Regions from separate parts of the Homo sapiens genome. Here all the other regions are linked to region 1. The links come from fine-mapping of genetic effects on gene expression. A gene starts in region 1. Each other region holds a variant in brackets. All regions are shown on one strand. Distances are from middle to middle. Region 1 holds the start of TGFBR2 (transforming growth factor beta receptor 2). Region 2 has its middle 95 kb from the start of TGFBR2. Region 3 overlaps TGFBR2 (transforming growth factor beta receptor 2).

What was found. PIP is the estimated chance that this variant, and not a neighbour inherited with it, causes the effect.
Region 2: its variant is fine-mapped to the expression of TGFBR2 in whole blood (TOPMed, PIP 0.93).
Region 3: its variant is fine-mapped to the expression of TGFBR2 in whole blood (TOPMed, PIP above 0.99).

The regions. Positions count from the first base shown.
Region 1 is chr3:30,602,611-30,613,291 of GRCh38, forward strand. TGFBR2 (transforming growth factor beta receptor 2) reads left to right here and starts at 3,991. Exons shown (of 7, transcript NM_003242.6): 1 at 3,991-4,367. The coding sequence starts at 4,274. It overlaps LOC105377015 (translation initiation factor IF-2-like), which reads right to left and starts at 4,314. Exons shown (of 2, transcript XM_047449400.1): 1 at 3,536-4,314; 2 at 1,789-2,948. The coding sequence starts at 4,314. The coding sequence ends at 3,874. RefSeq lists a silencer at 4,065-4,164.
Region 2 is chr3:30,696,318-30,706,998 of GRCh38, forward strand. No RefSeq gene overlaps it. Among named protein-coding and RNA genes, the nearest start is that of TGFBR2, 95 kb to the left of the region's middle. The variant G/T (reference allele first, on the strand shown) is at 5,953.
Region 3 is chr3:30,627,679-30,638,359 of GRCh38, forward strand. The region is part of intron 1 of TGFBR2 (transforming growth factor beta receptor 2); the gene reads left to right. Among named protein-coding and RNA genes, the nearest start is that of TGFBR2, 26 kb to the left of the region's middle. The variant G/A (reference allele first, on the strand shown) is at 5,022.

The DNA of each region.
Region 1 (10,681 bases):
TATTCTTATTTTTCTCTCTATTGAAGACAAGAAACACACACTGAATACTGATTATCTGTAGAGCACGGAGTGTGGTTCTACATTGAAAAAGGAATATTTTGTGCTTTTAAGGGCTTTACAATCATTAGGGTAGAATTCTAAAAAGCAAATAAATAACAATAATGTACTCCATGTTAGAATGGGGCAAACATTTTTTTTTAAAAAAAGGCTAAATAAACGAAATGTTCCCTGGGTTATCCCTGGGAAAGGAGTGATCACAGTAGGTGAAGCATCACAAAATATTTCCTGGAGGAGGTAGCATCATGGATGACCCACAAAGGGTGGATGACCCTCACAAATTAACTACAGTCTCAGTGCTTATTGGTTTGCTTCACAATAAAAGGAAAATTGGTCAAGAGATAAGAGCTGAGAATGAGGCTGGTTAATTTATAAGGAGAGGAATCTCCCTGTTAACTGCTCTAGCTGACAGTAACCTCAACAGCTGCATGTCACAAAGCTCAGGGGAGTAGGAAGTTCTTCTCTCATCACAACTGAGAAACCCAACGTTTAAATAAACCACAATTTGATTCAGTTCAATTGTGTGTGTTTGTGTGTGCGTGCAGAGTTTAAAAAGCTGGTAAAATAGATTGTCAGCTTTTAAAATTTCTGTTCAAGTTGATATTTATTGTTTTTCAACTCATTAAGGGCTTAAACGTTACCTTCCTTGTTTTTTAAACCCTGAGTCGGGCTATTATTTTTTTGTTCCCATTTGCAAATGGCCCAGTTTTTTACATGTATATATTAACTGCTTATGTGAATACACAAAATATTATACTAAGCCAAATATACAACTATGTGTGAAAATGATGTCTTGATTAAGGGTATCAGACATCCCTTTCAACAAGAATTTCAAAAGGAAGGGCATCATGACAATTTTTTTTTCTTTTTCTTTTATTTATTTTTTGTTTTTGAGACAGGGTCTCATTCTGTCTTCTAGGCTGAAGTGCAGTGGCACAATCATGGCTCACTGCAGCGTTCGTCTCCTGGGCTCAAGTGATTCTCCCACCTCAGCCTCCTGAGTAGTTGGCACTATAGATACATGCCAACATGCCTGGCTTTTTTTTTTTTTTTTTTTTTTTTAGTAAAGATGAAATCTCACTATGTTGCTTAGGCTGGTCTCGAACTCCTGGGCTCAAGTAATCCTCCCATCTAGACCTCCCAAAGTGCTGGGATTACAGGTGTGGACCACTGCACTCAGCCTGATGAATTTTTAAAATTATCAAATTGCAATATGCATGAGTTTACACATCTATTATTTTTATTATGATGATTTTCAAAAGGCTAGCTTGCACTTGGCAATGCTGAATTCTGATTCTTCTCAATTTCACAGGAGACTGGAGATTAAATCAGAAATGTTAAGGGCAAACAAAATTAAAATCAACATTAATGATGTATCATGGCAAAGACCACCAGTTAAACATTCCACCATAGATTTAAATATCTAGCCTCCAACAATGTAAAACATCTTTGTGATAATTAAGGAAAACAAAGCTTTTGGAATCTATTGGACATTTATTTGCCACATTGTGTTTTCAGGAGAAAGAAAGTACATGTTTGCTATCTGGAGGAACTTGGGCAAATGTAGGAAAAAAAAAAGAAGAAGAAAGAAACCCACATACTTCTCCATTCTTAAGAAAAGGAAGTAGTGGTGACATCATTCTCGGCTAAAATGTAGTCTGTTTATATCTCAAATATTCGGTAACAATGTTTTCTCCAGAGTTATGAAGCAACTAGAACAATCAAATACAATTTTCTTCTAAATCTTTATTGCCTGATTCATTCATTCATCCAACAAATATTTATTAAACATCGATTATGTGTTTGATGCTTAGGGACACAATAGTAAGTGGAGGGAAAGATACATAATACCTGCCCTCAAGAAATTTGGAGTTGAGTGGAGGATAGAAATATAAATTAAAGAATGACACAAATAATTATAAAGTTACAGCTGTTAAAAGAAAAGCATATGGTGCCAAGAGAACGTGTAATACAAGATCTACTCATGGAGGTGAGGGAAAGCTTGCCCATCAAAGAAGTTATGATTCAATCCACGAAGACCAGGAGTTGGCTGGGTGAAGAAAAAAAGGTCAGAGGAAGGAAGTCCACACTGGGGAAGGCTCTAAGCATAAAGGGTAGGAGGATTACAGAGGCATATTCACGAAATTTGGAGAAGGCTTTCAGTAAGCAAGGAGAAGCCAAATGAAAGTTTACGGGAGAGTTGGAGGCTTGAAGACACGTTCAAGGATCTGGTTTTTATCTTCTCTTTATCTCAAGAGCAGTGGGAAGCCATTAAATGATTTTAATCAGAGGGTTGGTATAACTAGTTTTGTATTTTGAAAAGCTGAATTCAGCTCTCGTTTGAGAAACTGAGTGAAAGAGCCCAGAACGGCCGTGGCTGAGGGTGACTCGTGGGAGACTCCTACACAAGCCATGGCAGTGGCATGGGCTGGTGGCAGAAGAGGGAATAGGGAGAAGATTTGGAACTCAATCTTCCTCCATTGACAAAGTCACTCCAGCTTTGGCAAGGCAATTAATTGGTGGGAAAGAAGATGCCTAGCCCTCCTGATTTCACTGCACTTTCTGCATCTTCAACATGAGTACTGGGAAGTGGCAAAACATCCAGAGGCAGCTTGGGTGCTAGGTGGAGCATGAGTTAAAATTCCAGGATGAAGCAAATGAACACTTAGAATGACAGGAAAGATTTGGGAGTTGGGTTTGGGGGAGGGCTATTTACCTTTATTCCCTGGAGACCCTGGCACAAACCCTTGCCTCTGCAATCTTCCTCTCAGGTAAAGGAATTCATTAAATGAATTGCTAGAAGATCTACTGACCAGAGGGCTGTACAGAATCATATCTTTGAGAGTGGGAAGTAGGTTGATCACATAGTTTATTATCCAATCAGGACATATCTGAAAGAGAAAGGGGGTTCTATTAATATTTAAACTACAAAACATGTACACCAGGAATGTCTTGGGCAAATCTGGTTGCCCTAGCAAGAAAGGAAATTTGAAAGTTTATACTGTTCTGCTCCCATGTTACCCCGTTTGCACATGAGAGGGTAAGTATTCTCTTTCTTCACCTGCATTAAGGGAATAAAAGCACAAGCATTCAGGTGACTCCCAACCCACTTTTAATTTTACAGTTTCTGCTATACTCTATACATTCTGAAAATTACATTTCCCACCACTATCACTTCGTGATAGGTGATCATTTACAATTACTCACTGACTCAGTCCCGGGAAGAGGCGGTGCAAAATGGGACGCTCTATCCAGGTGCTCATTAGAAATGCAGAATCTCTGCCTGCCTCCTAGACCTACTGAATTAGAATCTGCATTTTTAAATAAGATTTCCAGGTGATCAATATGTACATTAAAACTTGAGAAAAACCTCTAGACTTCGACCTAAAGAAAAACATTTTACAACTTGACAGTGTATGCACATACATACATGCATATAGACACAACTGAAGCACAAATTTAATGAAGTAGAATTTACCGTTACTATTTTATTTGGGAAAGAAATGTGCTCGCGACTCAATAGATTGGAGTATTCACTCCTGGATCTCAACTTGCAATTTGAAAACGCATCTCTAAAGCACCTAGGAGCAATCTGAAGAAAGCTGAGGGGAGGCGGCAGATGTTCTGATCTACTAGGGAAAACGTGGACGTTTTCTGTTGTTACTTTGTGAACTGTGTGCACTTAGTCATTCTTGAGTAAATACTTGGAGCGAGGAACTCCTGAGTGGTGTGGGAGGGCGGTGAGGGGCAGCTGAAAGTCGGCCAAAGCTCTCGGAGGGGCTGGTCTAGGAAACATGATTGGCAGCTACGAGAGAGCTAGGGGCTGGACGTCGAGGAGAGGGAGAAGGCTCTCGGGCGGAGAGAGGTCCTGCCCAGCTGTTGGCGAGGAGTTTCCTGTTTCCCCCGCAGCGCTGAGTTGAAGTTGAGTGAGTCACTCGCGCGCACGGAGCGACGACACCCCCGCGCGTGCACCCGCTCGGGACAGGAGCCGGACTCCTGTGCAGCTTCCCTCGGCCGCCGGGGGCCTCCCCGCGCCTCGCCGGCCTCCAGGCCCCCTCCTGGCTGGCGAGCGGGCGCCACATCTGGCCCGCACATCTGCGCTGCCGGCCCGGCGCGGGGTCCGGAGAGGGCGCGGCGCGGAGGCGCAGCCAGGGGTCCGGGAAGGCGCCGTCCGCTGCGCTGGGGGCTCGGTCTATGACGAGCAGCGGGGTCTGCCATGGGTCGGGGGCTGCTCAGGGGCCTGTGGCCGCTGCACATCGTCCTGTGGACGCGTATCGCCAGCACGATCCCACCGCACGTTCAGAAGTCGGGTGAGTGGTCCCCAGCCCGGGCTCGGCGGGGCGCCGGGGGTCTTCCTGGGGTCCCCGCCTCTCCGCTGCGCTTGACAGTCGGGCCCGGCAACCCGGCCCCCGGGCGGAAACGAGGAAAGTTTCCCCCGCGACACTCACGCAGCCCGACTCCCGTAGCTGCAGGGATTGTGAGTTTTTCTTGAAAAAGAGAAGGAAAGTTCAGTTGCAAGGGGCGCGGGGCACGTTTGGTCCCCTTTGTGCGAGCAGGAAAGGCGTTGTGTTGGCCGCGTTCGAGGCGAGCCCCCACCCCCGGAAAGGGAAGTTTGAGAAGTTGGTTATCTGAAGGCGGCCGGGGAGCAGCGGCCCGGAGCGGCAGCCTGAGCTGCCAAAGCAGCCAGCGCACCTGGGCCACTCCGCCCATGGCGATGCCGCGTGCCCACCCAGCTCTTTCTGAGCCACCCGTTCAAAAGGCCAGCTCCTCAGTCCTTAGCTCCTGGAGACGGCCACGCTTTCCCTCAGGCCGGCTTCTTGGCCCGGAGTTTTTGGAAACAAGTTTCAAGAAAATAATCGATTTCCAAAAGAAAGTTAGCTGGCTCCACTGACGCCTTGGCATGGATGGATAGGGAGTGGAGATGCTCAGGTGAAACCGAGAATCCCTCACTGAATGCCTACTGGGTGCTAGAGGCTGTAGATTTTGCCTGGAACAAGATAGTCCTGTCTTCAGGGAGTTGATGGTTCTATGCAATTATCGTTTGTTGGAAACCGAAGGGTTAAAATCCTAACTAGGCTACCCACCTGATCGCTGTCTCTGAAGGTTTTTAAGGAAAAAATAAAAATAAAAAAATATATATATATATTATATATATATAAATATATATATAATTATATATATAAATATATATAATATTAATATATATATGCATGCAGGAATGGGGGTTCTTAACTATTTGTTATGGAAAGTGTAAAACCTCTGAGACTTCAAAAGTTAGATTTTTTTTTTTTGGAGACGGAGTCTCGCTCTGTCACCAGGCTGGAGTGCAGTGGCGCAATCTCGGCTCACTGCAACTTTGCCTCTGGGTTCAAGCGATTCTCCTGCCTTAGCCTCCCGAGTAGCTGGGATTACAGGCGCGTGCCACCACGCCCAGCTAATTTTTGTATTTTTAGTAGAGACGGGGTTTCACCATATTGGCCAGGGTGGTCTCGATCTCTTGACCTCGTGATCCGCCCACCTTGGCCTCCCAAAGTGCTGGGATTACAGGCGTGAGCCACCGCGCCCGGCCAAAAGTTAGACTTTTTGCAGCTATGATCCAAATAACAGTATCTGCAGCTGTGGTCTGGGTAACCGAGTATTTGGGCAAGTCATAGAGCTTTTTCTGGGCCTTAGTTTCCTCATCTGTAAAATGGCCAGCTTGAATCTGGGTAATTTTACATCATCTTCATGTTTAACATCTTACGTATCGTGCCCCTCCCCTCCTTTCCCCTGGCTCTTCTGGTGACTTGGAGATGACCCATGTAGACTTTGGATGAAATGTAGAGGAGTTGACAGTCCACATCACCCGGAGGCACTCATTTTATTTATCCAGGGACATGGGCAGATTTACCTTTAGGTTTGTCTAGAAAAAATGCGCATCACGGTCAGTTGTAAATTTTAGAGTGTTTGAAGTGGATTGGGAACTTTTTAAAAATTATGGCATACATTGAAGGTGGCATGGAGATGGAAGCTTTTAATCAAATTAGGAAGAGGCACTATTGCAAGCAAAAAGTCTTGACACACATTTGAGTCCTATGGTTTTAATAAAATCTTAGTGTTTCGTTCTTGGCGTTTTTCCTGCATTGCAGTACCAGAATGTTCAATTGTCTCTCATTTTCCTCCAGACTTTTAAAACCTAAGTGACATTTTGCTAATAAATATTTAAAATGGCACCCTTAATTTTCTGTGGATGTTAAAAATCATTACAACTTTTGTTCCAGATTATAAAAGAAGGAAATTAGCAGGCCCTGATGTTGTTAGTTAGGTTCTGTTTACAAGGATAAGGTTTATGATTTGCAAATTCCAGACCCAATAGTTCACGAGTCACTTTCATTTCATCAATATACACACTTTTAAACAATTAGCTTAAAAACGTGGTGGCTTTTTATTTGGGTATTTAGACAGTTTTACAAGGCCCACAGATTTCATATTTTTATAGAACTGAAGTTTCAAAATGGTTGAATTAATGAATCATTTTGAATTTGTATTCATTTGATTCAAATTAAATTTTCAAAGTTGGCCAATGGTTGAAGACAGATATATTGAAGACGAGAAACCTAATTCTACTTACATTTTAATTTTTCATGTAAGTAAATAGTTTCAGAATTTCTCTAACGTAATTGGTAAACTGAAAACATTTTTTCAAAATATCTTAATGCAAGATAATATATCAGGTAATGAGATTGTTTAATAAACAACAAGCTCCTTTTACGTCACCTAAAAAGGCCCAAAAATCTGTCTTCTGTTTAGTAGCTTCTGTACTTCTGTTTAGTAGTATGCAAAGGATTTAAATAAAAGAACAAATTTCACTAAGAAATAGAAAGTTTTTTTTTCTTCGTTTTTGACTTAATAGATTCACTCTTCCTAAATGATCAAAATTAAGAAATGACTCTTTTGGGGAAAACTGTAAAGTGCACAATAACTCTTCAGGTCTGAAAAATATGACTTTTCAGGTTCCTGGAAGTAGATAGATTCTTATTGAGGACAAAGAATTTGTAAAAGTGTCATAGTGATCAGGTTCTTCACATCACTTTAATAACCTGCTTATTTTGTCAGGGTAAGAGACTAGACATCATTAGGCCCCAAATCTGATCTTCAGTCTACTCGTGCTTTTTTTCCGCCTCATAAAAACACATTTCCACCTTTAGGCCACTCAACATCTTATTTTTAATGAGTTATGATTTATACAAAATACTAATCACATTTTGAACTCATTGCCTTCTTTTCAATGTAGCATTCCCTAATGATGACTGTTGTCTATGTAGTCAACATAACTACTACATGTTTTCTACTCAGTTATGAACATGACTTTTTAATTTTTTCAGTAAGGTTAGTTTTTAACTCTGGATCAATAAGGCACCTCTGATATCATTGCAAAAACTGGGCATTTTTTCTTCTACCTTTTCAACCATATTTATTGAGTATCTCTTGCCAGGCAGGATGCTCAGACCTGGGATACCATCTCAGATGAATAAGACAGACCTGGTCTTTGCCATTGAATTTAACAGCTGGGAGCATGTTATAAGTAAAGAAAAGGATACGTGTTTTAACTGTTTATATTTGAAAGCATTATGGAATACTGGTGTTTTATTTTCTACACCTCATTTTCAAAAGCCTCATTTTTTTTTGTTGTTGTATGCACTAGGAGGATGTGCATGTTGAATGTTTCCTTCTAGGTCCCATTGAATGTATTTTTGAATCAATTTGTTGTCTCTTTCCTATCCCTGCCTTGTCACGGAGCCCCAGTTGGGCAGCCTTTAATTGCATTCTCCATTCCATAGCCAGCATGATGGACCCAATGCGTTCATTTAGTGCTCTCTTTGAGGATAGGCTGGTGGTAGAAGAGTGTAGGGTATAAACTTTGGAATCAGGCCGTCCTGGGTTCCAGACCCACTTGCCATGTACTGGCTGTGTAGCCTGTTGTAGTTGCTTTACCTACTAGTCATCCCTGGTCTCATTTGTAAAATGAGGATTATGGAGTTATGGTGAGGATTAAATAAAATATTGTTTTAAAGTATTTAACATGGTGCCTGCAACATAGTAAATGCTCAATAAATATCAGCTTCTGTTATTACTATTAACTCCTTAATTGGGCTTACCAGGGGCCTCTGACCTGGTTCCCATTTGACTCTGCTGCTTCACATCCCACCACAGCCCACATTTTCCCAGTCTATTTGTGTCACTACACATACACACAATGTGAGCAATTTAGGCAGCTGTTCCTTTGTTCAGGATGTCTGGAACTCCTGCTACCTGGCTAATTTTCACTCATCTTTTAAGACGTAGTTCAAGTGTCATCTTCTTGAGGAAACCTGCTTTGAATGTCCCAGTTTGAGGTAAATGTCTCCTATGAGATACAGACCTCTCACTTAGCTGGTAACAATACCAAGCCAAAGTCATATCTTTACGTAACTCTCTTGCCCATTATACCTTTAATCCTCTCAATCTTATTCAGTTTTCTATCTCTGGGATCTCTGGCAGTGCCTGACACATCATTTAGCACCCAGGAAGTGCTGAGCTGAGCCTCCACTTCATCCTACTGTATCTAATGCAACTGAGGTCGAGCATTTAACTAAGCAGTCACTGTTTGTTAGGTGTTTGGTCCAAATAGTAAAATCTTTACTTTCAGTTAGAATAGTTTTAGTTCTGATCACAATAAGTAATTTGACTGTTTTTGAAGTATGGAATTGGTTCTTGTATTCTCATGAAATATGGAAAAAGATGTTTCAACTTCTGACAAACATGATGGAAAGCTGCTAGAAGTTTTCATGCAATTCCTTTAGCCATAAATTTTGAATCAGTGTAGGGCCTTGAAAGCCACTGCAAAATTTTAAATAAAGTCACCAGAGGAATTATCCAGTAGATACTGATTCCTCTTTTTTTTTTTTTTCATAGAAGGGTGTCGGAAAGAGAATTTTATTACGAATGAAGTGCTAAAATCTAAATTTATTTTTTAAGTTTCTTTTTTCATTGGGTTTTATGTTTTGGTTTATAAGGGTGAAGCAGCGTTGGTTGAAGGGAAGTGTGGTCTTGTAGCCACCACTGCCTACTCTAGAGTAGCGTGGATATTATTTAGGTCTGATGCAAACCACCAAAGCAGTTTTAAATAGGGTGCAGGGGAAACATACTTCCTGGCTACAGCATGGCATTATTTGGCCAAGTTCCACATAAAAGCATAACTCTGTTACCTTGTTAGCTTCTACCCTCCAGGTCCTTATGTACAACTTCAGCAGATTTAAGTTATGATTTTCAGTAGAACAGATATGCATTCGCAGCAAGAATGCTCACCGCTTCTTTTGCACTCTCTACTTTCCTGGTAATATTTTGCTCCACAGGTACTTGTTGCTTGTGACTGAGGCAAGATAATGACTCATACTTCTTTGCTTGGCATGCCAAAGGGTTTGGAATGCTGGACAGGCAAATTGTCTCATCTCAGGGAGAAGGAAGAGAAAGACAATTAACATTTGAGAACCTACCCTGAGACAGCCACTTGATATTATGTATCTCATTTAATCCTAGGAAGAAATCTCCAAGATAAGTTTTATTATCTTTATTTTATGGATGGAAAGATGGATCCTGCTCAGGGTCTCTCTGGAGTTTTGCCTGGGTGCATGTATGAGTGTGTGGCCCAAGCTTCTTGTGCTTGCATGCTGCTAGGTTCTTTCGTGTGGTCTCTATGTGTGTATGCGTGTGTTGGGAGGGAGGCTGAAGAGGGGTGAATGGATATCAGATTTGAGAGAGGGGAAGCTTACCATCTAATGTCATCAGTTCAGTGCTCCTGATTTAATTGATTTGGTTTGCTTGCATTATCTGCCTCCTTCCTGACTACATTTGTACCACAGAAAATCAAGATAAGGCAGAGTTTCTTTGCATAAGGAAACTCTACAGCCCACAGTTTGACAATGGTGTCTTAGTGGTAGGACTCATGGTGGGTGACCTGTGGTTTGGCCACTTATAGCAGTTGGACATACCCCATTTGCAAAGATGTGTATTGTAAACCCCAAATTTTGAGTGTGTAGGACAATCATTTGTGTACAATCGTGTACAACTGCTGATGAGGGCAAGAAGAGCCGACTTTATCCAACATAACAAAGAAGAAGGGGACAGTTTGACTTTTGAAGGGGACAATTTGAAAACTTATAGGAGGTTAAGATTCTCTTCCTCACCCATTACATCAGGAGTACTTCTGCCTTTTACTTGCCACAGTCAGCTTTCTAGGTCTTAGCACCCAACAAGTAGCAACTATCCTCTTGGGTGTAGTCAGTTTAGTCTACTTATGGCCTCCTGCTTAGACTCTTAAGGGTTCCCTAGCATCTGTGTTTTGTTTGTAGGTTTGAAGCTATCATTATTAGATGAGATTTAGCTTCAGGGCCCGTACCTATGACTGGGGAGATTCTATCTGGGAAAGGTCAAGACATGCAGCTCTTTTTTTTTTTTTTTTTTCTTCTCTTTTCTGAGGGAATATTTTCCTCCAATTTTTTTCAGCTCTACAACTAAAATATAGACCTAGTATATGAACACAACTGGCCTCTGTCCTGGGCCTTAGATGGTACTCTGCTGTCATTCTTCTCTGGTCAGAGCCATG
Region 2 (10,681 bases), 94 kb after region 1:
CATTAGCATGAGAATTTGAACTGAAGCAGTTGGACTCCAGGGATCAAACCCCCACCTTGAACACAAGATAAAGCTGGAGTTAGGGGGTAACAACGTGGAGCCTCTGGAGAGCTCAAGGGTTTTTGATTCAACAGTCCAAAATGAGGAGGCAGATGCAGTTAGCACTGGAGAGGAGGGAGTTACCCATGAGGGAACCCAGGGAGGAAAAGTTATTCCTCAAATGCACATGGGCTCCGGGCTGCAGCCCAAGAGCTTCAGCCAAAACAGGAGCCAAGGTCTTCTAACCCCTCTCCCTTCTTCCACGCTTTGTTTTGCTGGGGTTATTTTAGTTCTTGCTACTGCAAGGTCAGGAACATTCCCAACTGGCAATTGGTCTCCAAGTGCCCTCAGCATGGACTCAGTCCCTTGCACCAGTCAGCATCCTTTGAATGCAGTCTATATTTGTGCCCAGGAGTTTCTATTTGTGGTGGCTGTTTTTGTTTTAAGCTCTCTATGCAAATGACACACTAATGGTCTGGTCCTAAGGGAAATTCTGTCTTCAGGTGACAGAGAACTTTTCATTTAAACAAGTGTATCTATCCTTTTTCACTAAAGCCACTACAGTCGGCATCTGCTCATTTTGTTCATTTTCCTCCTGAAATAGGTTAGCTAATCATTGCTTATCACATTTCCAACTAGTTTCTTTTTTTTTACTTGAATAACTATAGCTCCACCCTCTATGGGTTTGGGGCCATGCCTTTCAGGCCTACTTTGCAAACTGTGCTGATAAAAGACAAGATTGTGAACTTGCCCACATTACATGGGCTGCCAATCAGCCTCACATGGTGTAATTTAATTCTAATACGCCTCCTGATCTTTGGTGCATTTAAAAATAACTTGTTAATAGTCTTCCTATTCTAATTAAGCTAAAATTGCACACACTGTGAAATGCTTGCTCTCTTGCTCTCTCATGCTCTCTCTCTCTCTCTACACACACACACACACACACACACACACACACACACACAATTGATCCTTAAAAATCATTTCTGTAAACTGCCTGTGTAGCACAGTGCTTCTGAAATTCTCCTGTGTCTTCCCCTGACCTATGCCCACAATGATAGACAATAGAATAAAATAACTGTGGCCCTGGTACCCTAGGTCCATTAAAATATTCATAATAAATTGTCTAAACATTGATAACAAAGTGGTTAAAATTGGAACCTCTAGAGCCAAATCTCCTGGGTTCAAATCCCAGCTCTGCCACTAACTGTAACTTTGTGTAAGTCTTTTAACTGTTTTTATTTCCTGGTTTCTTAATGTGTAGAAGGAGGATAATGATGAGATCTACTTGGGAAAGTTGTAAGAGTTAAATGAAATACTGGTTTTTTAAATGGTTAGAACAGAGACTGATGCACATAAGTATTCATTATTATAATTCAGTTTTTGCATTCTTTAAAGTGAAGCTGTGTTGTTGCAGTATTTTAAGGATATATTGTTCCCCAAATTTTTGGGTAAAATTGACTGTTAAGGAAGATGAGTCATGTTTAAACTGTAATTGTGAGTAGACCACCCTTTATCCTTGAAGGGCTTTCTCAACCAGGTGAATGGCATGGCTGTGGTGGGAAATACAGGGCCCTGTGAGACAGGAAATCTAGGGGGTTGTCTAGCTCCATTACCATCCTCTTCTTTTATGGATTCAGTGTCTTGTTCTTTTGTTCCATGTGAGAATCATCCCTGCCCTGCCTACGTTATAAAGCTGGAGAAAAATGAAATAAGTAAAAACACATGGAAAACGTACTAAAATATTAATGCAAGGATGCAAGGTATAATCTTTGCTGGAACATTAGTTCCTCATTTATTAGTAACATTACAGGCATTTGAAATTATGTACTTTATATGGGACCTATATTTTAAATATATGCTAATCATCCTAGAAGCCCTACAAGGTAGGTGTTACTTTTTTCCATTTTACCATTAAGGAAATTATCCAGGTTTACACAACTTGAACCCAGGTCTCTGTCAGTAAAAAACTGTCTACTCTTCCAAACCATTTTATCTATCCATATTTATTTCCTCCATCAAACATTAGTTGAATGCAATGTGGTGTATCACCCAAGGTCGGCTGGCATCTTGAAAACAATAACTATGTGTTACTCAGCATCTTAGCACCTAGCAAAGAGTGGAGAATATAACAGTCTTTCAATTAAGTTTTGTCGAAGAAAGAAATGAAGGCTCTTGGTCTTTAGAAATTCACAAATCAGCTGAGGAGACAGACATACTAACCAACAGCATATGATCAGCATGTTCTAATTGGTACTGTCTCTGGAATAAAACAGCTGGCAGCAAAAAATGTCTGACTTTTGCAGAGAAACTCCTAATATGAGTTTGACTGCTGTCCCACATCTACCTATGTGGTCGTAGTGCTGTAGTCACTGTTGTTACCCTAAGAGGACAGCCTTGTTCCTCCAGGTCTCTTACAACTCTCTTTTAAGGAGCTCGTATTAGATCCCTAGAGCTGCTGTAATGCATTGCCCAAATCTTGTGACTTAAACCAACAGAAATTTATTATCTCATAGTTCTGGAGGCTAGAAGCCTGAAATGAAGGTGTCTGCAGGCTTCACTCTCTCTGAAATTTTTATGAGAACATTTTTCATGTGATTTAGAGCCCACCTGGGTAATCCAGGATGATATCATCTCAAGATTCCTAACTTAATTACACCTGTAAAATCCATTTTTCCAAATAAGGTCATATTCACAAGTTCTGAAGACTAAGGCATGGACAGATCTCATTGGAAACCATCATTCAACCCACTGCAAAGCTTTAGCCAATTCCCAGCTATGAATTCTTCCAAGATGAAAGGATACCAAGCTCAAGACTCTCCCTTGTTCATTTGAGGCCTTCCCAAAGATGACTGACATTTTCACAAATTTTATTTGGTTTCATTTCCTATCTTAACGAAAACAATGATAATTTCCTATCTTAATGAAAAAAATGATAATGTTTATACTGTATGATAATTAAAACATCATGTAAAGATTACTCTTTATCTAAATGTTTGCACATACTCTTTGAACATCCATCATTTTTCCAGCAGTTATGATTTTTTCTTCCCAGGAATATGGGAATGAAGTGAAATTGACAACTTTTCCCCCACGCATTGTATCCTCTTTTAATGCCACCCCCTGTGTTTAACAGCCTCTGACACAATGTAGGAGCAATCCATGGTACTCAAAGAATATTATGGAATTTAACAACAAGTATATATATTTGTCTTGATCCAGTGTCTTATCTGATTACCTTGGGCCACAGGAATACCCTAGGTGAGAAGGGAAAGTTGGGTTCTAGCCCAAGTCCTGTTACTAAGTCTCTTAGCTCCATGACCCTTGGATATTCTAGTTATTATTACTACAAAACTTAGCGGCTTAAAGTAATCTTTTTATTTTACATAATTTTATGGGTCAGAAATTTGGGAAAGGCTTAGGCTGGAAAGTTTTCACTTGGAGTTTCTTCTACCATTGCAGTCATATGTCAACTGGGACTTAAATCATCTGATAGCTCAGCTAGGCTAGATATCCAAGATGCCTCACTCTGGTGGTTAGTACCAGTAGTTGACTGGGATCTCAGTTGGGGCTGTCATCTAGGACAACGGCACATGGCTTTTCCAAGTGGCAGTGTTAAGACAATACTTTTAATATGACATCTGGCTTCCTCTAGGGTGAGTGTAGAACCTGTGGAAACTACACGGGTATTTATGACATAGCCTTGGAAATCATACAAGATCACTTCTCCCATACTCGATTGAGCCAAGCAGTTGCAAGTCACCCAAATTCAAAGCAATGGGACGTAGCTCCCCACCTCTCAATGGGAGATGTGACAAAGAATTTGGGAGCAATATTTTAAAACCACCACAGGTACTTTATACTATGTGAGTCTTGCTCTCCTCTATAAAATGGGACTACATTGTCTCTAAGACTCCTCTAGGGCTTAAAGTCTATGGGGCACTTCCCTTTAATAATCTTAATTTATAGATACTTACATTAGTATTTGTATTCCAATTCTTTTCTATCATAAAATAACCGTAGTACATAGAATTTTTAAAAATAGAAAAACAGGCTTAGTTTCAATGCCTAAATCTTTATGTATTTCCATATTTCGAGTTGTTTTCTGCGTGTTTGTTTGTTTGTGGTGCTTGTGTGTCTGTGTGTGTGAGTGTGGTGAACCTACCAGTACATCATTTTGGCATCTTTTCTCAGAATTAAACAAGCCAGGAAGACATTCTGACAGTTTGTTTTTAAAGACCATCAGTTGCCATTATAACTAAACATACTATACAACAGTAACATTTAATATCCCAATTAAATTGTAGTAGTTGTTGACCTCAGATTACAAACTCAGGTGGGCCAGAAATGTCTTATTTTACAATAAATCTGTTTTAATTTTGATTCTGAACCCCTGTCCTGCTGAGCTGGTAGGAAATATAGCCCTTCATTTTTGAGACAACCTTCCCCACTAACTCCTGAGGTTATATCATTCATCCAGGTCTCACACAGTTGGAACAAAGGGGAGGGGGCTGAAGGGTTTTGGTTCTCAATTATCCATGAAACCAAATTCACCCTGAAATGACCATTATCCTTATTTGCTGGGCTTGTTCAGGTCTGCCTCTCTTATGGTTCGTTGCCTTGCAGGGAGTTTGTGATTATTCTCCAGGAAACAGAATATCTCAGGTCTAGACTTGCTTTTTGGTGCACCACAAGCAATTTCCTTATATCCTCCATGTCCTCAGGGTCCTGCCATGGAACAGTAGGCAGGTGCCCTCTGCTCCAGAGATCCCCACAACTCTTTCTCCCTCAGGTCCTACAGATTCCATATCCTCTGCCTTTTGCCTTACCCAGGCTCTATTCCTGCTCGTTTCTTAGTAGTTTTTGATAGCCTACCAAAATCATTAGCAACCAAATAACTGCTTCACTTCATCCTGAAATTTTCCCTGGAGAAGGAAATATTTGCGTTCCATCTTTCTACTGCTTCAGAGAAAAGAATAACCAAATGACTATTTTTCCACAATAAGAGTGAATGTTCACATCCTGCTACAAAAGAATACATAAGGCTAATTTATATGCATTGCATATTCTCCAATATATAAAGGGAATCGCACTTCCATCAGATAGTTTTTTGAGTCTGTGTTTAACTGCTTCCTAAATCTTCTGGGTCTAACAGGAGAACAGCGTCTTTCATGGCTGATGACACTGAAGAAGTGCCAAAGAAACAGCAAAATGGCAGATTTAGTGTTTATTGTTGGGATAAGATAATACAGGTTCATAATCCCTATGTGCTGTTTCACATTCAAAAGCTCAGAAAAATCAAAATAACTTCTAGCTCATTAGGCTTCTAAACCTGACCTGAACTAATGTGAGGCTACTTTTAAGTCTTTATTTACCACACTTACGGTGCATATTTTTATGTTATATACCAGAAATATTAGTATGACTGATTATGGGAGTGTTACCTACTTCGTGCTGCAGGGTATCACATGTTGGGACTCAGAAAATGATACCCTGAAATATACTGCTTTGAACTTCCAACTGAGAGGACCTGAGGAGCAGCAAATGCTGAGTTCCTTATTTGACTAAGAGAATTTCCTTCAGAAGGCATTAAATTGTCTTGCCCCACCCCACCCTTCATCCCCATAATTTCATCAAACAGATGAGACTAACTCATAGGAAAGAAGATTGAAGCTGACTCCACACTTGGAGCTCATACAAACTTTTTCCCAGGCTATTGTCTGTTCTTCAAGCCCATTCACCTCCCCTAAAAATCATGTATTCTTCCTCAAAAATTGTCTATTATCTTCCACTTCCCTTTCCCCCATGAAAAGTGTTGAGGCTTATTCTGAGCCAATATGAGTGACCATGGCCTGAGAACCCAATATGAGTGACCATGGCCTGAGAACCATCTCAAGAGCTCCTTCAACA[G/T]TTGTGACTGAGCTTGTCAGGTTGCAGTTTGGTTTTATATATTCTAGGGAGACAGGAATTATAGGTAAAATCATAAATCTATATATAGAAGGTATACATTGGTTCAGCCTAAAGGGGTGGGATATCTTGAAGGCAGGGTGGAGGGGATGCTTACAGATCATAGGTAAATTCAAAGATTTTCTGATTGGCAGTTGGTTGAAAGAGTTAAGTTTTGTCTAAAGACTTGAAGTCAGTAGAAACAAAAATGCTTGAGTAAAGATAAGGGGGGTTGTGAGGGCCAAGGTTTTTGGTATGTAGATGAAGCTTCATAGATCACAGTCTTCAGAGAGAATAGAAGATAAATGTCTCTTTTCAGACTTTAAAGGTATCAGACTCTCAGTTAATCTCTCCTAGATCCAAGAAAAGCCTAGAAAGAGAAGGCCTGACTCCATTAATGGAGATTCTCTACAGATGCAAATTTCCCCCACAAAAGATGGCTTTGCAGAGCCATTTCAAAACATGTTAAAGAAAAATAAAGTAAAATCTGTTTATTTCCTTCAGGGTCTGCTATCTGTCATGTGCCATGACATGCTATACCAGTCAGGTTGGAATTGGTGTCTTATTGCCATAGTCTGTTTACTCAGTCTTATGATCTCTATTTTAATGTTAATGCTGGTCAGTTGCGCCTAAACTGCAAAGGGTGGGAGTATGATGAGGCATATCAGACCTCCATTCCCATCATAGCTGGGAATTCAGTTTTTCAGGTTTCTCTGGGTTCTCCCTGAACTAGAGAGGGTCTGTTTAAAGCTGCATTTGCAAACATTATGACAGTGAGACAAATCTAGCATGGCTGATTCCAACTTGCTTCTAGCCTCACATGCTGGCTGTTTTTACCCATTCTTGGCTATAGGCCAAGCTAACCATGAAAGGGGACTGAATTCTGCTAAGATCTACTTTCTGTAGTCCACTACTGCTCAGGAGTCACGTGGCTGGAGGTCACAAGATTTGTGACTTATTGCTCCTTTAGATAACATCACTATTGTAGAAACTAAATTGGCCTTTTGAGATGTTTTTTAGACTTTTGTGTCCTGGCAACCACTGACCCCACCCAGACTCAGGACTCAACTGGTCCTGTGGCCCTTCACCCAGAGTGCCCCTCCAGCACACAAGGACTATTTTCCATGCCCCTGTGATTGCATCCCCAGCTAATCAGCAGCACCCATTCATTAGTCCCCTGTCCACCAAACTATCTTTGAAAAACTAACCTCTGAGCCTTTAGTGAGGCTGGTATGAGTGACAACTGCAGTTCTCCTGTGTGGTCTGCCTCATGTCAGTTAAACTATTTCTTTACTGCAATACCACAATCTCAGTGAATTAATTTTGTCCATGTAATGGGCAGGAAGAACCCACCAGGCGATTACATGTTTAGTTAGCTGAGGGGGCTTAGGATTTTATTTTTGGTTTATAAGAGGGGATTTAAGCTTCAATCATCTGAATTGTCTTTGAGTTTTCATACTTTTTGTGACTCTGTGCACTTTCATCTTAATACATTTGTATGCCTTTTCTCCTGTTAATCTGTCTATTATCAGTTTATTTCAGCCGACTCAATTATCAAACCTTCAGAAGAGAAGTGTAAGCTTCCCTGCACACATAATATGTACCATATTATCTTTTGGAAAGTTCTCCAAAATTCTAGCTTTCCAAACCTATCTTATTCTAGGGATTTGAGATAAGGCTTGGGATATATATATATATATATATATATGAATTAGAAAGTTTCTTTTTCATGGTATTTCTTCATGTGCCCATTACAGGGACAGAAAAGATAATTTTTCCTCTACCCTTGTAAATTCTCAGCTGGGGCCTCAATATAAAAAGACAGATTAACAAAAGAAAAACAAATAGAAGTTTATTAACATGTATACAGTGACTTTTTCTGTAACCTCTGCCTCCCCCCCTCCCACCATGTTTATAGACCCCTGCATTTAAACCATCTGGGACTTCAGGTTTTAAACACGAGCTGGCTGAATCTTCTTGCTTGGTACCCTGCAATAAATGTATACATGGGAGACACCCAGGGACAAATGAGGAACTCTCAAAGAGATAGTTTAGAATTCAAGCATAAATACTATCTTCAGCTAAAGACAAAACAGAGAATGGTGTCAGGGAGGACGAGGTAACTAGGAAAAGTACAGTAAAGAAGAGTAAGTTTTGTAATGCAGATGTAAGTCAATACCTTCCCCACTGCTAAGAGCCTCTAGTGATTTACCCATCTTTCTCTTTCTTATACAGAGAGGGAGACACACTTAAAAAATTGAGATTTACTTTATAAATGCAAATTTCCCATAGAAAAGGGTTTACTTCTCCTTTATTTTCAGAGCTTCTCCTGTGTCTGCTGTTTCTCAAAATAATTCTGCTAAAGAGGCATATTTTGGGGTGTCATATTCTGGTCTCCTATATCATTCACGCTAAATCATGGGGCAGGATGATTTTCCGTTAAAGCTGAATACCAGGGAAGGCTTTTTAAAATTTCAAATGCTTGTGCTTCTGAACATCAAGAGGCAATCTGTGAAGAGATTCAAAGCAAGAAAGAAGACAGGAAACATAAGAACAAAGCTTCTTGTTTCCCCATCACCAAGTCTAGTTAAAATTTTCCAGTTGAAGGGAGACCAAGGAACTAAGATGAGATAAGATGTTCATGGGGCTGAGGGACAATGTGCTGCAGACTTGAAGGAACCATGCAGAATGAAGGTAAGTCATCATCCAGGGAACAGCCAGCCCCCACTGGAGTGGCACTTTATACTGTCAGCCCATGGGAACACCACGGATACTAAGTCAGAAACTCTAAAACTTCTGGATCCATTCAAGTGAGAATCATGTCGCTTGTGCCAAAGAATGACATCAATAGTCTTTCATACTAGCAACTGGTAAGAAGCGCCCATCCATAGCAGCCTACTGCCTACTTAATGTTAATCAGTACTGGCTCCAGTGGCCCAAGATAATTTTCTCAGGCCTTGACTGTTATGAATTAACCTAACTCAATTTTGCCAGTCAAAATTATCAGATTCATTTGGTTATCAGTAGTTTCAAATGCTTAGAAGCAGACTAAGGATACAAGACTCCTCCCAAAAACCTCCCCAGCAGGCTTCACTGAAAACAATCTCAGATTGCAAAGAAAGGAGTCACACAACTGAGACAGAGCAGGGACCCCTCTTAAAGGCCTGCAGCCCACCCCTCACCACCAAAGCGTGATAATAAGGGAATATTTTGACTTCCTTTAAGGGAAATTCCATACACCTAGTTAGCCCTGGGAAGTAAATGAGCGATTTGATAAGCAAGAAGACAAAAGTAGCTTAAAACAATAGCTAAAGCAGTTAGCATCACAAGATGTTTTGTTCCCTATAGAAATTAAAGATAACATTTTAACCTCTCTTCCTGAGTTGGTTTACAGAAATCCAAACTCCCACCAAACGGATCCATTGGCACATAGAACTCAGATAAGGGGCAATTGAGGACTGAACTCCGATCACCATTCTTCGTTCTAAATTTCTTCCCGAGGGAGGCAGTTAAACCCATGAGCTAAAGCTAACATTCTTTTCTGCTGATCCCAAATTTTAGACAAAGCTTTGCTTCTTAACCAATCACAATTCAGAAAGTCTTTGAATCTACCTATGACCTAGAGGCCCTGCTTCAAGATGTCCCACATTTTTAGTCAAACCAATGTATAGCCTCAATGTATTGATTTATGACTTTTTCTGTAACCTCTGCCTCCCCATCTTTATAAACTCCTACCTTTAAACCATCTCAGAGTTCAGGTCTTAAACATGAGCTGCCTGAATCTTCTTGCTCAGTACCCTACAATAAATACCTCATTTTCTCTCATCTCCATCCCAGTGTCACTCTTTGGCTTTGCTGCACTGGATTAGCAGACCCCGGTTTGGTTTTGTTGGGTACAGGCCCCCAAATCTGGCCATAAACTGGCCCCAAAACTGGCCATAAACAAAATCTCTGCAGCACTGTGATATGCTCGTGATGGCCTTGACGCCCATGCTGGAAGGTTGTCGGTTTACTGGAATAAAGGTAAGGAACACGTGGCCCACCCAGGGAGGAAAACCGCTTAAGGCGTTCTTAAACCACAAACAATAGCATGAGTGATCTGTGCCTTAAGGACATGTTCATGCTGCAGGTAACTAGCCAGAGCCCATCCTTTTATTCAGCCCATCCCTTTATTTCCCATAAGGAATACCTTTAGTAAATCTTATTATGACTGGCTTGCTGTCAATAAATATGTGGGTAAATCTCTGTTCGGGGCTCTCAGCTCCGAAGGCTGTGAGAGTCCCTGATTTCCCACTCGACACTCTATATTTCTGTGTGTGTGTCTTTAATTCCTGTAGCATTGCTGGGTTAGGGCCTCCCCAATTGAGCTGGTCTTGGCAGGTTTGATAATACAACCTTTACCACAACCTCAAGGAAGTTCCAAGTCTCTCTCTTTAGGTACCATCACCAGACCTCACACCTGAGACAAGAGCAACAATATTCTAAAGTTAGGAGGCAGCAACTTTACAGTTGGTGTTCAACAACCAGAATTTAGTAAATTAGTACCTGGACATTGTTTCAGAAACAAGCTTCAAATGCCATTGTAAAAGATCTGGATGTCTGAGCTAGCTGGATTCTATTCACCTGAAGATGGAAGGGATCTTCACAATATTTTTAGTCCATCCACATATTGCTATAGTTTGGATTTTTGTCC
Region 3 (10,681 bases), 25 kb after region 1:
ATAAGATATTTTCACCTTTGCAGGAAGTTCTATTGAACAGTGGGTCTGAGACCATCTTAGATGATACATGTGGCTTGAAACGTAGCAGGTGCAAATAAGGAACTGAATTTCAAATATAGATATATTTTTATTTCAGTTAACTTGAATTTAAATAGCCACAGGTGGCTCTTGGGTATCATAATGAATAGGGCAGTTATGGAGCATCATTAAAGTCCCCATTCTTCTCAAGTCCCAAAGAGGTCCGTTCAGGTAATTTCTTAGCACCTATAATCACAGTGGGACAGATTAAATTACTTGTACTTTTCCATTCCTGTGCTTTGGAATTATAGGCTGTTTCTTTGTCCTGGAAACCAGATAGTCTAATGTTTGTGGAAATACTACTTAGTAGTGCACTGCAATTATAATACTTTATTGTAGGAGGATGCAGCCAGGCCTTTTTTTTTTTTTTTTAATCATCTGTGTTTTTAGTTTTAATCTTAAAAGGATTATAAAAATAGTACTGCCTTGTGGGAGAAAAATATGCTTAAAGTCTATGAGCATGGAGTGGTAGGGATTATAAACCGTTACAAACTTCTCCTGGAAATTCTGGGGAAAGGGAAGTTAAAGCGGCCAATAGAAATCTCCTAGGAGAAAACTTGCCCTGAAGGGATGCTTTTAATTGGGTTCAGTATTTATCAGAAGAACCCTGCAAAAGTGGTTTCCCTGAAGGCATTTGGATTTTCCCCTGTGAATAAATTTCACCCACCTTGGTCACCTCTGTGCTGTATTCTCCTAGAAACTCACCTTTATTTGGCATGCTGTGACTTAAATCCTCCAAAAAAAAAAAAAAGCCTTTGAAAAAGCCTGTGGGTTTTTTTTTTTTTTTTTTTTTTTTTCTCTAAAATGTTAATTTCCTTTCTTTAGGCTTGTGTGGGCTTTGACTGGAAACTTAATCTGTGTGCCTGGGCTCTGCATTAGGTTTCAGTCATTGAAATGGGGCTTAATAAGAATTACTTGATACCTTAGGAGTCAGACGAGCCTTACATTTATCTTGGGCTCAGGGATTTGCATTTTGAGAGGTTGTGCCAGCTGACATGAGCCTTTACAGGTTTCAGCTTGTTGCAAACCTAGTTGGGTCCATTTCTCTCACTTCTGAGACCTTTTGCTGCTGCCACTCATAGCTAACGTGTTTTCCATGGAACACTACTCCTTGTCCCTAATTGTCTTCTCTCCCTACCTCAGCAGTGACACTACAGACAGCCAGTCATTTAATACGAGACTCATTCCTTAAGAAGTTGGGATAGAACTTTAATTACACAAGGCATCCAAGCCAGCAGTCAGGGCCCTTTCCAATGCGATTACTTTTCAAGCTCTGCCCTGCTTCTCCTTCCATTTCCCTCTGGGCCTTCGTTTTCAGATCTCCTCAGAAGCCGAGGAACGCAGGTCCTTTTGAATTTCTTTAGATCAGTGTTGTCCTATAGGACTTTCTGCAATGATGAAAGTATCCTGTCTATTCCTGGCCACATGTGGCTATTAAGCACTTGAAAATGGCTGGTCTGACTTGGAACTGAATGTATGATTTCATTTAACTTTAGTTAATTTAAATTTATAAATCCATGTGTCCTCATGGCTACTGTGTAGCTCTATCTAGATTATGCCCTTGACTTTTGAACAATGTGTCTTGGGAGAGTTCTCTTGGCTCTGGCCCTCCACTTTCATGAACCAGCTCCTCCCAGTGGGGAAAGAAGAACTCTCTTTGACTTCAGAACTGACTTCCTTTTATTGCTAAGTTAGACAGGCTAGGCCTTGAGCTTAAAACTCTTCACCAACTGTTTATACCCTCCATACCTGGCCTCAACATGTCCTTTTTTCTCTGTGACTATATCCTTATTCTTTATCCAGCAACAGCAAATATGCATTAATTTTCTGCAGATAAGGTTTCCTTTGGAACTTAAGGAAGAGGTATGAAACTTGGCTTTGGAGGACTTAGGGATAGGAAAGCCATCACCAAGTGTTTATAGAGTACCAACCACCGTGTGCCAGCCAATGTTTGAGATTTGGGGAATACAGAGTGAATTAAAGTCCATGTGTACAAGCTAATAAACAAGATTCTATCAACATGTCAGCAGATAAGTACAGCGCGAGGGTCTGAGAACAATGGTAGATGCTTGTAATTTTAGAAGCGGTTGTCAAGAATGGCATCTTTGATAATGTGATATTTGAGCAGTAATTGGTATGAAATCGGGATGAAGAAGGCAGATCTCTGGGTTAAGCGCATTCTAGTTGGAGGGAACAGCAAGTACAGTGTCCTAAAAACAGACTGTGCTTGTCATTTCCTCCCCTCCTCCCCCATGGTTTCTCATTTTTGCTTCTCTTTCTAAGAGTTACATTTATAGGCATACATTTTTACACTGGACATCACAAGAAATTGAGCGAGTTCACAACTCCACTGGTGCTGGTAAAAAGATTATGCTAAGATGGATAAAAGACTATGAAACATAGTCAAAATGCACTTCTCAGTCACCTCTGGCCATACGATTTTACACATCTGGGTTCTCACCCCAGAATGAGATAGGTTTAATAGATAAGATTCAGTGTGGGGCAAATCTAAGGTGCCAAAGTTAGGTACATACTAGAACTTCCATAAAGAGTTGTCTTAAGAAATAGAAAGCATTATAATTTGACTTTGTAGCCAAAGGTCATTCAAAACATTTCAAAGTTTAGATCACTTATTCCAGTTTTATCTCTAGTACTAAATGTTATTTCAGCACACAAATGTGGTCATTCCCCATGGATGGAAGGAGCCAGCTGTGTTCCAGAACTATGTTGGAAGATTGCACCTTGAAGACTGTGTGCATGGTTCTCATTTTCCATCTTAAAATCACTGCTGGAATCTATCTTGACTTTTCCACAGCCCATTGACAACTGTCATTATGTAAATACTGTCCTTTTTTCTCACCAACTACTGTGGCTGATGTCTCCCCTCCAAAATTTATGTTGAAACTTAATCCCCATTGTGGTGGTATCAAGAGACGGAGATTTGGGGGAAGTGATTAAGTCATGAGTGGATTAGTCCCACATAAAAGGGCTGGAGGTAACCAGCCTGGATCCTTTTGCCCTTCCATTTTCTGCTATGTGATGACACAGTACTGGTCCTCTCTAGAGGACACAGCAACAAAGCACCATCTTGGAAGCAGGAAAGGGGGCTCTTACGAGACATCAGAACTGCCAGTGCCTTGATTTTGGACTTGTCAGCCTCTAGAACTGTGAAAAATTTCTGTCCTTTATAAATCACCCAGTCTCACATATTTTGTATGGCAGCCAAACAGACTAAGTTACCAACCTTAGTGGGATTGCTAGGACTTGGAAAGGAGTAGCCTTTTTTTTTTTTTTTTTTTTTTAAATACAGAGTCTTGCTCTGTCGTAAGGCTGGAATGTAGTGGCACAGTCTTGGCCATCTGCAACCTCTGTCTCCTGGGTTCAAGTGATTCTCCTGCCTCAGCCTCCTGAGTAGCTGGGACTACAGGCACGCACCATCAAGCCCTAGCTAATTTTTGTATTTTTAGTAGAGACGGGGTTTCGCCATATTGGCCAGGATGGTCTTGATTTCTTGACCTCGTGATTCACCCACCTCGGCCTACCAGAGTGCTGGGATTACAGGCGTGAGCCACCGTGCCAGGCCGGGAGTAGATATTTTAATCACAGGAGGTAGCATCAGAAAAGTTGCAGCTACTCACCACAAGAGAGACCTTTATGATGTTTACTGCAAATTGCATCAAGGTCATGACAGCAATGAGTAATGCCCAGGAAAGGCGAAGATCAACCTTACACTTTTTCATCTAACTGCACTGTGAGAAAACAAGCAAAATTGCCCAGTTTAAGGGCAGATTCTCAGATTTTGTTTCAAATTTCCTGCCCTTTGTTGTCCTTTCTAGAAGCCTTAACAATACTTGCAACTTCTTTCTTTTTTTTTTTTTTTTTTTTTTACTTCCTCTGCTTGAAAAACATGAAGGGGGAAGTTTCAAAGTGTTTGGTGTTATCTTAGAAACCAAAGTGAATCTGAATGTGTCTTTCTGTCCTTTTTGTGTCATTTTTCAAAATGAAAGGGACCTTTAAGTTCATCATGTCCAACCCATTTGTTTGACTGGTTGGAGAACAGGCACAGAGAGTGGTTGGGTAATTGCCCTTGAACTCAAAGCCCCCTCATGGTCGATTCAGAGCCTTCTCCACTGCAACCTGCTGCCATTCCCAGCATGGTGAATTCTCCTCCAGTAGAAGTCATATAGCAATGTTTTATAATTAACTTTTACGTGAGCAAATGAGCTCCAGGAGAGAAGATTAAGGAATATTGCTTTCCATATATCTGGATGGCCCAGAACACTTTTTAACTAGGTACTTAAAAATCTACTACAATTGTTGTTGCCCATATTCTTCTGTAATTCTTTCATCAGCTGTGAATGAAAGTACAGCAGTTTTATTTCCTTGAAAAGTAAGCCAAACATGATTTTATTTCAATATTTTAGAATTCCACAATCTTAAGACACATCATTGCCTTCCCATCTCTGCATGTCAAACTTACTAATTTTATTAGCATGTTGCGAAATAACACACTAAGTGTCTCAAAGCCAAAGTAGATCAGCTCTCGCCTGATAAATGTGCAGGAGTAAGCAGAGGATTTGAAAATTGAACTGGATTCTCAAGTTACTGCCTGTTTGCCAGACCTATGCTGGTTATGAACAATATTTCAAAACCAGATTATTTGGTTCTAGATCCTAAACACTCTTGGCAACTTTATTGTAACGATGATTGATTCCATTGTATATTTGAAAGCATCAGGGCACAGTGGTAACAAAAAATTATTATATTTCAATTTGTCTATTCATTCAAATTTCCTGAAAGGTTTTTTAGAAGTCATCAAACTGCTACATTCTATTGATGAGTAGGAATAGATTTACCAAACTCATACTTATCTTGTCATTTGTTTCCTGCAATTTTCTTTGGTGTGAGAGAGCATTGCATGGAATGTTACCTTTCTAGCAAGT[G/A]AATGCTTGTGTGGCATTTTTTACTGTCTAGAGGATTTTCACAGGTACTTCAAGCATGTTTGCTCTTCATCATGATCCTACATGGGACGATTTCATAAATCAGGAAATGGAGGTTTCAAGAAGTTAAGTGGCCCACAGCTAATACATGTAAGAGCCTGAATTCACACTCAAGTTTTTACCTTAAAACTCTTGGGCTTCACCAAGCTGACCTTATTATATATGTCTCCTAAAATAAGTGAAGTAATTACAAAGAACCAAAGCTTTTGTCTAAGAAACTTATTGCTTCCCCACCCCTTGTATACTTTCTTCAACTCCTAGTAGTCACACCTGTGTCTTTGCCTTGTACTGGAATGTGTGTAAAGTTCTACTCTTAAACTTTTTGATGGAATATCTATTTCATTGTGGAGTATCAGGAAGGATGAGGGCTTGTGTGTCACCATTGGCTTTGTCTTTTATTTGCTTTCTCTCATTGATATGATATGATAAGTTATTTCATCTCTTTGACCCTTAATTTCTCCATCTATAAAATGTTAATGACAAAATTGCATGGTGGTTGTGATAAGTAAATGAAATAATCATCACAGTACTTAATACTGGACTAAGCATTTGGTCTGCATTCGATAAATCATGATCATGGTAATAATAATTATTAACATCACATAGATCTGATTTCTAAAGTAGATGTCCTCTGGCCTTGAACTGAAATGTGATTATACACATTAGAGAATTACATGCATGTTAAAAATATTCATATTAGAGAGTTAAATCATGACTTTTTGCATTCTAGTTAAACCCTAATATTAGAAGAGAGAATTGAATGTGCAGGTGAAATAATCATTAATTGTAAACATTCAGGTGGCCACAGGGGCCTGGCAGGGGAGTAGGTGACATGAAGGAGTGTCAGGGAGGAGGCAAATTTGAGGACACAGAGACTTTCTCAAGAGGAGCATCTCAGCTCACAGTCAGCTGACTGTTGTCTTGGGATGGTGTGGGCCCACTGTTTCCAAGTCTTTTTTATTTCTTTAAGTGGAATTAGAAAACCAGTTTTGCATGTGAAATCTCTGAATTTTAAAACTTGGTTTATATTTTAAAAAGAAAAGAGTTCAGGCCAAACAGAACACATCTGTGCTCTGTGTCCAGCTCTTGTACCCACTGTAGCAATTTCTGCTTTAGCTTCTCAGTCTGTGCCCAAGTTATTTGGTTGTTAGAAACCAAGCGCCTTGGACCTCGTTATATTACTTTTTAAAGGGATGCCTTTCCCAAATATGGTAGTACTCTGGCCCTTTTCCAGAGAAAATATGGAAATCATCTGTTTTGACCAATATTTTCACATGTTTAATAAAACTGTAATTGAAAAACCTTTCAGGTACCAGGCATGCACAAGAACCCCGCAGCATATTTTGAAAAACTGAAGCAAAAGCCTCCACGGAGAAATTTATCAGTGAAAATTCTGCTCTCACAGAACATTGATATTCGGACCAAATCCCATGCTTAGTTGAGGCAAATGGTTCATTTCAGGGGCTGATTTTTCAGATTCTCTAATAGTCACTATCTTTTAAAAATCTGTTCTTACCAGATTTTGTGTTAGTTTCTGCATTTTCCATTAAGCTGCCTCAGTACTTTGAGATAAAGAATTGTTTAAATCCTAAATGAATAACTTAATTAAAAAGCACATCTTCATTTAGACCATCCTTATTTCCAAAGCTCTTTTGATGAAAATCATTTCGTGCATTTTTAAAAATTCCCTAGAAGAACTTAAAGATCTTGAGGAAAGGACCATGTCTTATCCTGTCCCCCTTCCCTCAAGGGTTTAAATATGAGGGCTGTCAGAAAGCAGCACATTTTCGTTTAGGTTGACTAATTTTGCTGGTAAGTAACAAATTACTTTAGTTGAATTGGAATGTTGTAAAACTCCGTCAGTCGTGTATCATTATCTTGCCTCTATCAGTCTGTGCCATTTACCAATGTTTTGACCATCACCAAGAGAGTTATTTAATCATCTTTTATTTTCAATAATAAATTATTTCCTTGTTGCTACAGCACTCCAAGTCCTGTCAACTGAGGGAGAATTGTTTTCTCAGTTGCTGTCACTTTAGGTAAAGTACCAACTTTAAAGCACTTCTCAGCAGAGGCATAAAGTTATTATTTTGAGAGTTCATGAAATAGTGCTCCATTCTACTCTTTCACTTGATCTAATATACCATTTGCATTTATATGGCTTAACTTTTTTAACTGGCTTCCTGTTCTTCTCAGCCCCAAACCCTACATTCTGGTTTTTGACTCATCTCATAGTCCCTGCAGTCAGTCTTTGCCAGATAAAGGCACTGTTAAAGTGAGCTTTATCAATGAAAAACTTAAGAATTTCATGTATTGATGACAGTATTTACTATAAACTGCTTGCTTCTCCCCAGCTTTCAGAAATTTGTTTTATTCACTGGGTCCTATTAGAGCTGAAAGAGCATGATTGAGAAAGTTACAATTGTTTCAGCTTTTTGAATATGGCACAAGTGCTAGAATTCTGAAATACTGCCTTTGGCAACAATGTGTAGATATTTCCACCTGCAAGAGTCATTTTAAATGTTTAGATTTTGTCTCCTGTTATGTGGCCTGTATCTCAGAGAGGTCCCCTGCCACTAAAAACAAAAACAAACAAAAAACAGAAAAATAAATGAAAATTCAGCAAGCGTTGGGGGGACTCAAATTGTACTTCATTCTTCAATGATACAAGAAAGCAAGAAAACCAAGTATGCATTTTTAGGATTTATTTGGGGTCATTGGGGCTGGTAAGTGTTAAATAGGAAAGGATGCAATTGAAATTCCAGCTCAGTTATTTTATGTTTGTCACTGGAGAAAGCCAATTATTTTTCCGTTCAGCTACAGCTTGTTTCATTCCGTAGAAGACTAAAAAAACTTCCTTGTAAATTGCATTTAAAAAAATTTGAGTTTAAAGGTACAGCCAAGATTTCAATTTAAAGTACCTCATTGGATGAATTCATTTGAGACACAAGTAATCATTCCTTAATCCCTTAATTTGTTTGGTAAATACAAATTTATGTTTATGCAGTTTTCTTAAAGCAATCATAGCAAACTACTAAATTCATGAGCCAAAATGCTAGTGAAACTCAAACCTACAAAGCTAAATTCCCTCAGTTGAACAAGTCCAAATGAGGAAATCACACACATAAATGCATAAACACACACACTCACACACACACTTCCCGTATCAGCTCTGTCTCCATTTCTGACCTCATGTTTGCATTTAAAGGCAAGTAACTGATTCACATGAGGTTGCCGTTGTTAATGTTGCCTCTCAAACTAGAATATAAGCCATAGGAGGGTAGGGACCAACCTGGTGTTTGTTTTAGATGTCTTGTTGTGTGGAGAGTATCCCAGACATTTGATATCCTTAATTGTTGGCCAGATGGTAGGTAGTTTCAGTGTGAAAATATATATGTATGTGTGTGTGTGTGTGTGTGTGTGTGTGTGTGTGTGTGTGTGTGTATAGTACTGGGATTACAGGCGTGAGCCACCGCACCCGGCCCGTACTAGGTATTTTACTAGAATTATTTCCTGCTCTAAGAGATTTTAGAGTATTGATTATGTCATTCTTGACAGGTTTTAAAAACTATATTAGTATTACAAAAACATGTGCATGAAAAGGAAAATTGATGCTTTTGAGCTTATCTCTTTATTTTCTGCCCACATGGTGGTCTCCCTATTAGGTATTGTTTCTCCACTTCTGATCCTGGTGCCCAGAGGCTATGTGGGGCTGTCACTTGAATGAAAGCTGCATGCATCTGCCATGACAGAATCTGCCTTGCATTTGCTCATTTATAATGAAAACATTTTTTAAGTACAGAAAAATAATAGAAAATTCAAAAGTAACAGAAGGGTATGAAATAAAAAGTTGCTTCTCAACCTCAGTTTTCTACCTATTTATTTTCCTTTTACAGGGCCAAATAATGTTTGATTCTCATGTCCTTGCATCTACTCCCAGAGACCGTCTAAATATATAAGCATGCATGTGTGTGCACGTGTGTGTGTGTGTGTGTGTGTGTGTATTCCCTTTAAAAAGCAGTAACAGGCCAGGCGTGGTGGCTCAAGCCTGTAATCCCAGCACTTTGGGAGGCCAAGGTGGGCAGATCACGAGGTCAGGAGATCGAGACCATCCTGGCTAACACGGTGAAACCCCGTCTCTACTAAAAATACAAAAAATTAGCCAAGCGTGGTGTTGGGCACCTGTAGTCCCAGCTGCTCGGGAGGCTGAGGCAGGAGAATGGCGTGAACCTGGGAGGCAGAGCTTATAGTGAGCCGAGATCGCGCCACTGCACTCCAGCCTGGGTGACAGAGCAAGACTCTGTCTGAAAAAAAAAAAAAAAAGCAATAAAAGCAATAACAACAAAACAGAAATGGTGGTGTGTCAACCAGGGTTCCAGTTGCAAGCAGATGGCACCCTCAAATTAGGGAGATTTAAGGAGAGTTTAGTAAAACAAGTACTTACAAAGGTATGGATAGAGTCAAGGGAAACCACCACAAAATGGGAGAAACCATAGTGCAGATACTTAGGACTAGTAATTGCTATGTTGACTTGCTAGGCCCAAAGTGGCAAGGAGAGGGAAGAAGTAAATCTTGGAAATGACCTCCTGAAGAGAACCTGTGACCTCCAAGTGAGGGACTTGGCCAGCTGGAAAAGATTCCACAGAGGGAGCCAGAACACAGATACCTTAAATGTGCTCCTCATTGCTTCCCTTAGATACCGCTGGGTCACCCCATTGGCCAAACTTACTGGAAGCTTGAGGGCAAGAGAGCCGGTTGATGTAGTCCATAAAGATGAGCCTCCTGGGGCAGACAGTCTGGTGACCAAGGGTGGAGAACTGATCTCTAAGGGCAATAGAAGACACCCAGCCCAAGTAACTCTATACATTGGTCTCTACCTTGCTTATTTTCTTGAATGCTATAGCCTGGGCTTCAACACTTATAAAGATAGCCACATGGAGCTGCCCTCTGCTTTTTAGTCGTTGCGTTGTGTTCCTTGTTTGGATTTGTCTAATTTATTTTACTAGTCTTCTCTTGATGAGTGGTTAAAAAAAAAACCTGTTTGTCCTTACAAACAACACTGCAGCGAATTTATCAATGAATATCATAAATTTTTAGAAGCGAAAGTGCGAGGCAAAAGGCTATTTGCGTTTGCAGTGTTGATTGATATCAATAACATGTACTCCTGAGATGTTATACCTGTTTACAACACAGCATTATGAGAATGTTTGTTTCCCCATACTTTACCCAGCTCACTGTGTTATCTGACTTATTGATCTTTTTCAAAATGAGTTAGGTGAAATATGGTATGCATTTTTAATCTGCATTTCACTTGTTAGCAATGAGGTTGACATGCTTCGCTTTTAGAGCTTATTCTCTGGTGATATGATCAGGAAGTAATATTTAAAGTAGCGTTTTTTTAACACAATATAGAGAACTCATATGATTTGTTATTTGTTTCCAATAAGCATTGATAATGATTTTAAATGGCATTAATTCTTCTGGCACTTGTAGAATACTTACTATTTAAAAGCAAGAATTATAAGGCATTGTCATTTCACAGAGATTTTAGAGTATTCACTTTGTCATCTCTGAAAGGTTTTAAAGTATTATTACTACAAAAA